4 linked regions of the Homo sapiens genome follow. The protein of the gene in region 2 interacts with the protein of the main gene of each other region in a pairwise test. Each region holds a gene or a part of one and is shown on either strand. Other genes may lie near its edges.

Region 1 (3,500 bases), on a different chromosome or scaffold from region 2:
AGGACTTTACCAAGAAACTAACATTTACACTTTCTGACGGAACTGAAATACACTGAATTACAGGCATATTCACTGAAACAACAAAAAAAATTCTGTCCATGTAAAGGCTATATTTTTTACCCCCAAAAAAGTGTTTCAATTCTGATACTCACACCACAACTGGTTAAGAAAATAAAGCGCAGTGTTTAGCAACTGAGCATCCTAACTACCGTAAGAGGCACTCTGTGCTCACCCCTTCCTGGCAACCGCTGAGGTCAGCAAGGCCAGGAGCAAGGAGAGCCTCCTATTTTTCAACACAAGCTGCTGCCGTCTCCTTATTAAAGCCCCGGATGGAGAGATCATAGACCACTTCCTCTACTTTCTTCACGTCATATTTCAATCCGTCGTAGCGCTTCCTCAGGGAGTCATTTTTCAGGTTGAGAAGGCGAAAACCGGAATCCAGCTCATTGATGAAGGTGGAGATGTGGAGGGGTCGGGAGTAGTCTCCAGCAGTCACGCTGTTGACAGACAGCCTCGACTGTACCAGGAAAGAGAAAACAGGGGCTTGTTACAACATGGCTCCTTCTCAGCGCATCTTCCTCTGAATCACAACCAGAAGAACCGCAAGCCTAGACAGCCACGCTGATCTTCTATCTCAGGGTACACACAAGTACAGACAAGACAGGAGCTTCTCTGAAAAGAATCCCACTGAAAATGAGACCAGTTCTGCCAAGTAAAATTTAACATTACTAACATCTAAAATTTCTCTAATTTCTTAAACTGGCTATTGCATAATAAAGTGTTACATTACACAAGCATCTTTACAGCTCATCTGCTATCATATCGAAGAAAGAAACGACAAAATAATCACAGCAGCTCCACTACCTCTTCCAACCTTGGCCAAATGATCACATTTCTAGAGCCCACCTACTAAGCTGCAACTCCAGTCACCTAGAATCAAGTAAGGCAGACTTGGGATAAGAATCTAAAATTATGTTAGTGTAACCCTGTCTTGAAGGAGAACTAACATTGATTTCAAGACCCAACCCAAGACTCCCCTTCTCGGTGTCAGTATACAACCCCCTACTGCTCCATTTGACTGGCTTTAAAAAATATATTAAAATAATAAAAAAGATTCCCCTTTCTGTAAAATCCTCTCCACTTTTCCAGGCTTACCCCTTTAGTGCACTGTCAACATACGGGTTTTTTGTTTGTTTGTTTGTTTTTAATATAGAGAAGGGGTCTTGCTTTGTTGCTTAGGCTGGTGTGGAACTCCTGGCCTCAAGGGATCCTCCCACCTTGGTCTCCAAAACTGCCAGCATTACAAGCGTAAGCGACTGTGCCCGGCCCCAACATGTATGGTCCTAAAGACACCTTACACTTAACTAATACTAACAAGATGCTTCCTGTTTACTGGTCAGGTGTCTCCAACAAGCCAGACAAGTGGTACAGCCTACAAGTGGACCCCATCATCCATTCTCACCATCTTCCTCAGGTTTTCAATGCACACATACCCACTCCAATAGACTCCATTTCTGCCTCCCTGCAGGCAAGGCACCAGAATGTTAACAGAAGTTGTGTGTACAACTTCAAAGAAATGTCCTTAAAGCGGGAGGGCATACCATTTTCCCTATTTCCTCCTACTGCTGGCTAGAGTGAAGATGTGACTAGAGCAACAGTTCTGGAACATAAGAAAGAAGCTGAAGCTAGAAGAACCTAGGGCCAAAGATCAAGGAATCATCAGACCAGCCCTGGACTGCTTTCCTCTGGAGCAAGGACAAGCAAACTTTTTCTTAACGAGCCAGATAGTAAATATTTTCACCTCTGCAGACTGGCACAGTCTCTATCACAACTACTCAATTTTGCTACTGACAGCTTTTTTTTTCTTTAGACTTTTACAGGGCAATTTCCCTAGATAGTGGTTAAAGGAATAAAGGATAAGAATAACTTAGTTATATAGACAAATGAGTGTCCAAAACAATTACATGGATTAACAGTTACCAGGAATAAATGTTTTGCCACTACCCTAAAAGGAAGAGGTCTTATCATCGGTTAAAAATTCTTAACTCAGTAAGTATGCACTCATCATTTGATCTGGCTTTTCTCTGATGCCTAGTAAATTGTAACACATACAGTGCCAGTCAGTGACTACCTGGTGACCGAGAGATGGCTTAGAAAAGAATTAAGACGTTCTGAATTTTGGTACCCATTTTAAAAACAGACAGTGGGCCAGGCACAGTGGCTCACGCCTATAATCCCAGCACTCTGGGAGGCCAAGGTGGGCGGATCACGAGGTCAGGAGATCGAGACCATCCTGGCTAACACGGTGAAACCCCGTCTCTACTAAAAATACAAAAAAAAATTAGCCGGGTGTGGTGGCGGGCGCCTGTAGTCCCAGCTACTCAGGAGGCTGAGGCAGGAGAATGGCATGAACTCGGGAGGCGGAGCTTGCAGTGAGCCGAGATTGCGCCACTGCACTCCAGCCTAGGCGACAGAGCGGGACTCTGTCTCAAAAAAAAAAAAAAAAAAAAAAACTGACAGTGAAGCAGAAAGATCAAAAAAGCAACCAGCAAGTTACTGAGCTTACCAGTTCACTGGCAAGAATTAGAACTCCTGAGAGATAATCTTCTACATCCAGATGAAATCCTTTCTCCCGATCTGGCTCAACTAAAAAACACATGAAAATAAAGTCATGCTGTGAATGCAAGTTAAGCCTCAGAATATAAAAATATACACATAATTTCTCCCAAAGTAAGTGAAGAAAGGATGAATCTTTTAAAAACTGGCTTTTTAATATATTCACAACCTTGGCAACTAGACCTCACTATGGATTTTTTGAGTTCTTAAGCAAAATTCAATTCAGTCTTCCCTCAAAAATACTATCAAAAACAGTATCTAGTTGTGTCACAGAATATACTTCTTGTTAGAAAGCACATGATAAAGCATTTCAGAAAGGAGTTACGATATTTGCAACTTTCAAATGGCTGACAAAGACACACACAAAATGAGAAGATTAAGCAGATGTAGCAAAATGTTAACAAGTGGTAAATCTAAGTGGCATGTAAACAGGTATTCATTGTACTATTCTTTCAATTTTTCTGTAGGCTTGAAATTTTTAAAAATTCAATTTTAAAAACTAAAGCAAGTGCAAATGTGTTTGCCATTGTTATTTTTAGCTTTTACATTTCCAGGTAGAGTCGGCCCTCTGCGCTAACCAACTATGGATAGAAAATATTTGGGAAAAGGCCAGGCGTGGTGGCTCATGCCTGTAATCCCAGCACTTTGGGAGGCCAAGGCGGGCAAATCACGAGGTCAGGAGTTCAAGACCAGCCTGGCCAACATGGTGAAACCCTGTTTCTACTAAAAAAATACAAAAAATTGGCTGAGTGCGGTCACTCACGCCTGTAATCCCAGCACTTTGGGAGGCTGAGGCAGGCGGATCACCTGAGGTCAGGAGTTCAAGACTAGCCCGACCAACATGGAGAAACCTCATCTCTACTAAAAATACAAAATTAGCCGGG
Region 2 (3,500 bases):
TGGTGTGTGTATTGTTATTGAATCAGTATTTCTGTGGGGAGAAGAAGCATATGAGCTTTCTATTGCACCTTCTTGCTGCTATTACACATCTTTTGTTTCTTTTCTAATTTCTCTGGCTATAATCTCCAGTACAATGGTGAATAGTAGTGGCCTGGTACAGTCCTTAAGGGAAAAACAGAATCTGGGTTTGTGAGAAAAAAAAAAAAATTCACATTCTTGAGAGAGCACTATCAAATATGATTTAATTGTATTAATCCAGGAGAACAAAGTGAATTATCTTCTTTGGGTTCAAAGGATCAATTTCCTAGCAGCCTTTCCCTAAACACAATTTTTTGCCTTATTTAAACTTTCAGCCATTCTATCAATATAAACAAAATGCATATGATATATAATATACAAAATGCAAAGCAAGTTGCAATATCAACAACCAAAATGCACTGAAAAGAATGTTACCTGGCCATCTAATATTATTTCTATTTTTGATTTCTTTTTTTGATTCTGTCATTGGCTAACTTCAAAATCCCACTGTTCTCATGAAAAATGAAGTGGTTTCCTAACTTTTCTCTCCATAGAAGTTTCTCTTCAAATAAATATTAACTGAAGTTGTCTGAACAACTCTTGAGTTAATTCACACACCAGCAACTCAAGCCTAGAAGAAAAATGGACTTTCAAAATTTTTTTTAAATAACAAATATTACCGTAATTTACACTTCTGAAAAAGTAAGTTTCAGGTTTGCTTTAAGTGTACTGATCTTAATTAACTCTCACTGTTTTTTAAATCACAAAGCATTCCTCAATTTTACTTTCTTGACCCATTTCATTAAATTTCTTTCCACGTATTAAAATGTTGTAGCTGCAAACCACTGACTATTTGCCACCCAGGTCACATGCTTCCATGCCTGCATATTTTTGTAAAAGGTGCATTCTCTTCCAGGAATGTCCTTCCAGGACTTCTCCACCAATCAAAATCCTAGTTAGCCTTGAGGCATAGGTCAAGTGTCACTTCTTAAAAGAGGGTGACTTTGAAGGCTTCAGTTGGATATTATTTGCTCCTCCCAACTCCTCTCAACTCTGCCTCAGATTATAGCTAGTACATGTTTATCTCCACTACTTGAAGGCAGGACTCAATTTAGTTTATTTACACAGCATAAACACTTTTTCCTCATCCTCAAAGATATCAAATGTAGCTGGGCGCAGTGCCTGTAATCCCAACAGTTTGGGAGAAAAAGGTAGGTGGATCACTTGAGCCCAGGAGTTTGCGACCAGCTTGGGCAACATGGAGAAACCCCATCTCTACAAAAAATATAAAAAACTAGCCAGGGACAGCAGCACATGCCTGTAGTCCTAGCTACTTGGGAGGCTGAGGTAGGAGGACCACTTGAGCAAAGGAGGTTGAGGCTGCAGTGAGCTGTGGTCACACCACCACATTCTAACCTGGGTGGACAGACTGAGACCCTGTCTCACCAATAAAAAAAACTTTTTAAAAAGAAGATACCAAATGTTAGTATTTTGACAAATGTCATCAAAACAACAGTAAATAAGATATCTTTAAACACTTATTGAAAAGATCAAAATATTCTTAGGGCAAGTCCGTACTTTTGAACCTAACAGTGTAAAAAGCCTTCCAGGAAAATGATAAATGCTTTATTTTTCTGAAGGGCTCCATTAAGTCACTTGTACATTATATTTAAATCTTTGACCTAATGGGAACTGTTAGAAACACAGCCCTTTTTCAAGAACCACAAAGCTAACTCTGGGAAATCCTTCTAATTGTGGCTGGAATTTTATAATGACCAATAATGAGGTTTAAGAGGATTCTGAAAGTAACTATTACATCAGTGGAAGAATCTCATTTTACCTCACTTGCAACTCTTATCAAACATTATTATTGTACGAACTAAACTAAAGAATTTTGTTTCTAGGCTTTCCTTCGAGCTGAGTAATCACTAAGAAGATAAAACTCCCACTACTCTTTAAGGGTTTGATCAAACCTTCCTGACCACTACAGCTTTTTTCCACTGGCCTAATTCCTTGGAAAGAAATGGTACTGCCCACATACCCTTTGACCAGGTTTGGCCCACACTACATTATTTGCAATCTCTGTGACTCACTTCATGCATTATGAAAGGCCCCTACACCCAATGTATCTCAGGCCTCAGAAGTAACTCACAAATAGTTTCTATTAAGAGATCTTTCAGTGGGTGGGATAGTTTCGGACTTTTTCAGAACACCAAAAGGCTATATATATATTATATATGTGTGTGTGTGCATATGTATTATATATAACATATATAATATGTATTATATAATATGTATTATATGTATTATATATAATATATATTATATTACATTATATTATTATATTTTAAATATAAATATTTTTATATTTATATATTTTTATATATCTATATATTTTATATATTTATATTTATATATTTTATATTTATATATAATTAAATATAAATATCTAAATATAAATATTTTAAATATAAATATTTAAATATAAATATTGATTAAAATTAATATCATTTTCCTGGAATATATAAATAATATAATATTAATATATAATAATACTATATTATATTATAATATACATTATAATTATATATTATAATATTGTATATAATATATACTATATTGTATATAATAGTATAATATATAATATATGGTATAAATTATACTATACTATACTATATAATATAGTATATAATAAGTATATCTTATATACTTATAATATAGTATATAAGATATAGTATAATAGTATGATATACAATATATATTATGTTATATATAATATATAAATCATTATATATTATTCATAAATAATATATATTATATATAATTAGAATATATTATAATACGTATTATACGTATTATAATATATATGTATTATATATGTTATATATAATACATACATTTTATATATATATGTATTTATATATTGTCTGCCTCAGTACCAAGTTTCCCATTTGTCCCTCAACCCCCTCAGGGCAATATAAGAGTAACCTCCTTGAAGTCTTTAAATATGTGTACAGAACGAAGGCCCTCAACTTAAATACTTATGTGATATTTTGGAATTCTAGTTTATTCGCTCTCTGGACACAATATTCTGATTAATGAAGTAGGAAACACTGGCAAAGTTTTCCAAATAATATCACCTAGAATGGCAATACTCATCATTTTCTGAGTTATTAACCTCACCCCTTCTCAAACCACCAACTACAACTGGCCTCCCTTAAAAATGACATGTGACTGTTTAAGGTGAAATAATGTTTATTTGCTTCTTTTAATCTAAGCTATTAAAACAGGAGTTCCCAACCCCCGGGCCATGGACCAGTACCAGTCGGTGGCCCATTGGGAACCAGGCCACCCACAGCAGGTGAGTGGCAGGTGAGCCAGCATTACCACCTGAGCTCCAGCTCCTGTCAGATCAGTGGCAGCATTAGATTCTCACAGGAGCAGGAACCCTATTGTGAATTGTGCATGCAAGGGATCTAGGT
Region 3 (3,500 bases), on a different chromosome or scaffold from region 2:
TTTTCCCCCGCTAGGGCAGGAGCCTTGAGGAATTAAAATAATAAATTCCTTTTTTTTTTTTTTTGAGGCGGTGTCTCGCTCTGTCACCCAGGCAGGAGTGCAGTGGCACAGTCTTGGCTCACTGCAACCTCTGTCTCCCAGGTTCAAGTGATTCTCCTGTCTCAGCCTCCCGAGTAGCTGGGATTATAGGCGTGTGCCACCATACCCAGCTAATTTTTTGTATATTTAGTGCAGATGGGGTTTCTCCATGTTGGCCAGGCTGGTCTTGAGCTCCTGACCTCAAGTGATCTGCCTGCCTCAGCCTCCCAAAGTGCTGGGATTACAAGCTTGAGCCACGGCGCCAGGCCCAAATGCCCTTCATTTTATGTGCTAGTTTAGTGACCGTTTCCGTCGTTGGTAGCCAAAAACATCCCAGCTGAATGGAGAAGGTCTCCACGAGGTCAGGTAGGGCTGCAGTGGCGGTGCAGTTGAGACGGGATGATGCCTGAACTGGGGCTGGCCCAGGAGGAGAGAGACGGGGAGTCAAACTCAAAGGGAAGTTGGAAGACTCAATCCTCTTCCCCATATCTCTCTAGGCAGCAAAGATGGTTACAAGCTTCCCTGGACGTGGGACACACCATCAGGAAGGGGCCTGGCTGAGGGGACCCCTACCGCAGGCAAACTAGGACCAACTCTTGGGGCTGGCACCACCAGGAGCCCAGGCAGTCCTCCAACTCTGAGAGTCCATGGAGACACAGGTGAGACACGTGGCTGGGGTGAGGAGACTGGGACGGTATTTGTCCTGGGGTAAAGAGACAGATTCCAGACTCCCCACTGGAACCCTTACCCCAGAAAGACTCAGCAGAAATATACCCTAAAACAAAGGGTTATCGGCTGAGCATGGTGGCTCATGCCTGTAATCACAGCACTTTGGGAGGCCGAGTTGGGAGGATTGCTTAAGCTCGGGAGTTTGAGAGCAGCCTGGGCAACATGGTGAGCCCCCCAAGATATGAACATTAGCTGGGTGTGGTGGTACGCACGTGTGGTCCCAGCTGCTTGGGAGGCTGAGGCAGGAGGATCCCTTGAGCCTGGGTGCTCGAGGCTGTGGTTGTGCCACTGTATTCCAGCCTGGGTGCCAGAGCGAGACCTTGTCTCAAATAAAGACAAAAACAGAACCAAGAGGTTATTATCTAGACCGCTGGTCATCAACTAGGGTCGATTTTGCCCCCAAGGGGAATTTGGCAATATCTGAAGATATTTTGGATTGTCATGGCAGGAAGTGAGAGGCTACCCATTGGCACCTGATCGGTAGAGGCCGGGGTGGTGATAAACATTCACAATGCACACGACATTCCCCATAACAAAGAACCACCCAGCCCTAAATTACAATAGTACCGAGGTTGAGAAACCCCAGCCTAGATGGCATAAGTCACTGTGACAAATAGGAAAATGATAGGAAACCCTAGATGAGAAAGAGGAAAACAGGTGATTCCCAGAAAAGGAAGCCCAAATGGCTGAGTGTATTTAGAAATGCCCACGCTCATCAGGAACCAGAAAATACAAATTAAAACAATGGCAAGTACAGAGGAGAATGAGAAAGGTGGGTATTATCCAGTGTGAGTGAGGATGTGGGAAGACAGGCAACCCCACTGGACAGAGCTGTTTGATAAAGACAATCCAGCAGTATTTAGTAAAGTTAAGCATGATTAGGCTGGCTGCAATGGCTGACGCCTGTAATCCCAGCACTTTGGGAGGCTGAGGCGGGCAGATCACGAGGTCAGGAGATCGAGACCATCCTGGCTAACACGGTGAAACCCTGTCTTTACTAACAATACAAAAAATTAGCCAGGCGTGGTGGTAGGCACCTATGGTCCCAGCTACTCGGGAGGCTGAGGCAGGAGAATGGCGTGAACCCAGGAGGCAGAGCTTGCAGTGAGCCGAGATTGCGCCACTGCACTCCAGCCTGGGCAACAGAGTGAGACTCTGTCTCAAAATAATAATAATAATAATAATAATAATAATAATAATAATAATAATAATAATAGGTGTGGTGGCAGGCGCCTGTAATCCCAGCTACTCGGGAGGCTGAGGCAGGAGAACTGCTTGAACCTGGGAGGCGGAGGTTGCAGTGAGCTGAGATCGCACCACTGCACTCCAGCCTGGGCAACAGAGAAAGACTCTGTTAAAAAAAAAAAAAAAAGAGAGAGAGAGAAGAAGGGAGGAAGGGAGAAAGGAGGGAAGGAAATCTGCATGAGCTCCATGACGTAGATCTATAATTTTGCCCATTTCTCAGATGAGTGAAATTGAGGCACAGACATCAGTGACTCTGACATCAATAATTATTAGAGTGCTTATTCCATGCTAGACATTACACTAAGTGCTTTGCACAACCATGGTCTCCCTGAGTCCTTTTGACAGCTCTGCAAGGGAGATACGCGGATCATCCACAGTCTATAGCTGAGGAAGAAACTGAGATTCAAGCAGTGAAGTAACTTGGCCGTGGTCACCCCGCTAGGAAGCCATGCAGCTGGGGTTTAAACTCGGACAGCCTGCCTTGAGCACAAGCCCTTTACTTAACCGCTTCTCCAATCCTGCAAACAAAGGACAAGGTGGGGAAGGGATGCGCCTGAAAGACCCTGCCCTGCAGGAACAAGTGGAAATCTGTAGATCTGTGTGGTTCAATACGGTAGCTAAGAGCACCGGGCATGGTGGCTCACGCCTGAAATTCCAGCACTTTGGGAGGCTGAGGCAGGCAGATCACCTGAGGTCGGGGGTTCAAGACTAGCCTGAACAACATAGTGAAACCCCATCTCTACTAAAAATACAAAAAAATTAGCTGGGCATGGTGGCACATGCCTGTCATCCCAGCTACTCAGGAAGTGGACACAGGAGAATCACTTGAACCCAGGAGGCGGAGATTGCAGCGAGCCAAGATCGCGCCACTGCACTCCAGCCTGGGCAACAGGAGTGAAACTCCGTCTCAAAAAAAAAAAAAAAAAAAAAGTTAAATGAATTAACACTTTGAAAATGAAACATTTGCCGGGCGCAGTGGCCACGCCTGTAATCCCAGCACTTTGGGAGGCCGAAGCGGGCGGATCACGAGGTCAGGAGATCGCGACCGTCCTGGCTAACACAGTGAAACCCCATCTCTACTAAAAATACAAAAAATTAGCAGGACATGGTGGCGAGCGCCTGTAGTCCCAGCTTCTCGGGAGGCTGAGGCAGGAGAATGGCATGAACCTGGGAGGCAAAGCTGGCAGTGAGGCGAGATCGTGCCACTGCACTCTAACCTGGGCGACAGAGTGAGACTCCGTCTCAAAAAAAAAAATAAAATAAAATAAAAGAAAATGAAACATTTAGTTTCTCATTCACACTGGCCGCATTTCAAGGGCTTGGTAGCCACATGTGGCCAGTGGCTACTGTATTGGCACGGTAGATCACAGCGCATTCCCATCACTGCAGATGTGAGATTTCATTGCCTAGACTCTATGTGCAAACAACTTGGGTTCAAGTCTTAGCCC
Region 4 (2,433 bases), on a different chromosome or scaffold from region 2:
CTCTGTCTTCAGTTCTTTTCAGGGGCATCCTGCCCATAGTACCCAGTTCCCAAGGGGCCCCCAGTCACGTGGTGAAGCCTAGCACTCATGCAGCTCTTAGGGAACCAAAAACCAGCACTGAAATAAAGCTGAATGACTGACTGAGTCCTGTGCCGTGTGACTTGCTCTGTAGGCTGTCATGAGGTGCTGTCTGTCCCAGCCTAGGAACCCGCCCCACTCGTCTCCTGCCCTCAGCAGGCCATAGTTGTTGGGCACATACAGCCTAAAGTCCTGGCCAGTAATGGGACTGGCAGGCTGTGGAAAACCAGACCCCACCTGGCTAGCCACGGTGGGCTGATTCCCTTAGGTTCTCTGGGGCTGAGAGGTACAGAAGCCAGCAGGGCAGAGGTGCCATCTAGGACTGCTCAGCAGCCTGGGCCCAGAGGATGTCCCCAATTCTGGTCTTACCCCTGCCTAGCTCTTCTGTGCCTGGCCCAGTTCACACTTAGCTCTCCACAAGCTGAACTGCTAAGAAAGACTTTATTAATAAGGTCAGGTAAGGGGAAGGCAAGGAGCCTGGAGATGGACACACTGGTACCAGGGGTTACAAACAGTAAGAAACACTTTATTATAACTTTATAACATATAAATAGCTTGGGTCAAATCTGTGCTTTCTGGCAGCTGGGCACCAAGTCTGCTCCCCTGCAGGCTCCTGCCTTCCTTCACATTGCACTGTTCATTGGGTGGCTCTGGCCTGGGGCCTGGCGGTCGAGGCTGGAGTCAAGGGGCTGGGCGGCCCAGTCCCGCCCTCCATCTCCTCATGCGGTGGCCTGTGCCTGTCATCTGCTTGGGTTGCGGCTGGTGTGGAAGGACCGCTCCTCAGGGGTCAGGCCAGCAAAGAAGGGGTGCAGCAGGGCCTCGGCCAGTGTGATGCGCTGGGCAGGGTCAAATTCTAACATCCTCCTCATCAGGTCAAACAGCTGCACGTGCTCCAGGGAGTCTTGGAGCATGTAACTCTGCTCAGGGACACAAGGTGCCTCAGTGTGACGGCAGGGTCGTGGGAAGCCACAGCAGGTCCCCTTGCCTCTGGGACGCCTTGCTGGACTGGATCGAGGAGGCAGTGATGCCTCCTTGGAGGACTCTACTTCCGCCCTCCTGGACAATGAGCAGCTCCTTTCCTTTCATGCCTGTTTAACGTTTTGCTCGGAACTTGCCAGGCTACTAGGTGTCTTGCTGGGTTGATGCCTCTGCCCCCACATGCAAAGTCCTGACAGGTGGGTAGAGATCACCTCTGCGAAATTCACTTGTCCGAGCACCAAATGCAGTTGACAGAGGCTTCCTGGCCATGTCTAGGTCTTCCCTCCCCCTCACCTCAGTCCTGCCTAGTTCTTCCCAAAATTTCGAGGAGAGAGAGGGACAGGAAGCAGCAGGGCTTCTGACATCTGGCTCTTCTGGTGTTCCCCAATTACATTCATAGCCACCCTATGGGGAAGGGGTAGGGCTAAGGGCCCCTCTGGGGCAGTTTGCAAGAAGCCCCATTGCCAGCACCCAGCAGTCTTGGGTGCCGCCTCCCATAGAGCTGGATCAAGGAGGCAGCCTTTAGCGGCCTGGCCTGTCTCTGCTGTATGTCTGCCCAGTGCCTGGGGTCTCTCCTTGGCATGAGTTCAGCTGGGGGTAGCCAGAAACTGACCTTCAGAGGTTTGCAGTTCTCCTTCACATACCGGCCGTCAGAGCTGTTCTCATCCCAAACTAGGCCCCCTTTGTAGAAATATTTCTGCTTCCTGAAAATTAAGGGGGTGGAGTCAAGTGTGGGAGTAGTAAGGGGACAAGCCTCTGGTGGGAGGTGGGGAAGAGCAGCTCCCAAGACAGCAGCAGAACCAGGGCAACAGGTCTGCAGGGGCACACAGGGAAGGCTTTTAGGAGCCTGCGGAACCATGGACTGTCCAGCAAAGACTCACCACATCCAGTACCCTGCTGACCCACAGCCAAGAAGAGAAAGGCCTCTATACCAACCCTGAGGGGGCTACTGGGGTCCTTACCTGGTACGGTGGATCATGTGTGATGGGATGGGCCCTAGGATCTTCTCCATCATCACCAGGTGCTCTCGGTTTTCGTGGGTCTGTGGAAGATTAGGGACAGTGCAAGGGGGTCAGTACTAGCTCTGGCCCCTTCAAGGAGAAAAAGGAACAAGAAAGATGGGCAAGTGCCCTCACTGCCCCAGGACATGCAAACCTACCAATGAAGCGGCAGCCCCAGCTTCTCCTGCCAGCCTGTGCCTAGGCTCCTCAGCCCTTGTGGGTGGAGGTGGACTGGGCTGTGACTACATTTCTCTCTGGTTAGCTCTTCACTCCCTGCCCAGAACATGCCCTGTCCCAGCCCATCCCGATGCCTTTAGTCATCTGTGCCCCTTATCTAGAAGGTCAGGTCACCTCCTACCCCATCCTCCATCCTCGA

What was found.
Region 1: the proteins of SDCBP (region 2) and TSN interact in binary tests that used the Homo sapiens proteins (3 or more experiments, as listed by UniProt).
Region 3: the proteins of SDCBP (region 2) and SSC5D interact in binary tests that used the Homo sapiens proteins (3 or more experiments, as listed by UniProt).
Region 4: the proteins of SDCBP (region 2) and CLK3 interact in binary tests that used the Homo sapiens proteins (3 or more experiments, as listed by UniProt).

Annotation. Positions count from the first base shown.
Region 1 is NC_000002.12:121,762,151-121,765,650, reverse strand, and holds part of TSN (translin), read right to left. Parts: intron 2,647-3,500; coding exon 2,567-2,646; intron 518-2,566; coding exon 284-517; 3' UTR 1-283. UniProt on the Homo sapiens protein: DNA-binding protein that specifically recognizes consensus sequences at the breakpoint junctions in chromosomal translocations, mostly involving immunoglobulin (Ig)/T-cell receptor gene segments.
Region 2 is NC_000008.11:58,556,261-58,559,760, reverse strand, and holds part of SDCBP (syntenin-1), read right to left. Parts: intron 1-3,500. UniProt on the Homo sapiens protein: Multifunctional adapter protein involved in diverse array of functions including trafficking of transmembrane proteins, neuro and immunomodulation, exosome biogenesis, and tumorigenesis.
Region 3 is NC_000019.10:55,512,436-55,515,935, forward strand, and holds part of SSC5D (soluble scavenger receptor cysteine-rich domain-containing protein SSC5D isoform 1 precursor), read left to right. Parts: intron 1-575; coding exon 576-737; intron 738-3,500.
Region 4 is NC_000015.10:74,628,269-74,630,701, reverse strand, and holds the end of CLK3 (dual specificity protein kinase CLK3), read right to left. Parts: intron 2,099-2,433; coding exon 2,019-2,098; intron 1,761-2,018; coding exon 1,670-1,760; intron 996-1,669; coding exon 819-995; 3' UTR 501-818; downstream 1-500. UniProt on the Homo sapiens protein: Dual specificity kinase acting on both serine/threonine and tyrosine-containing substrates. Phosphorylates serine- and arginine-rich (SR) proteins of the spliceosomal complex.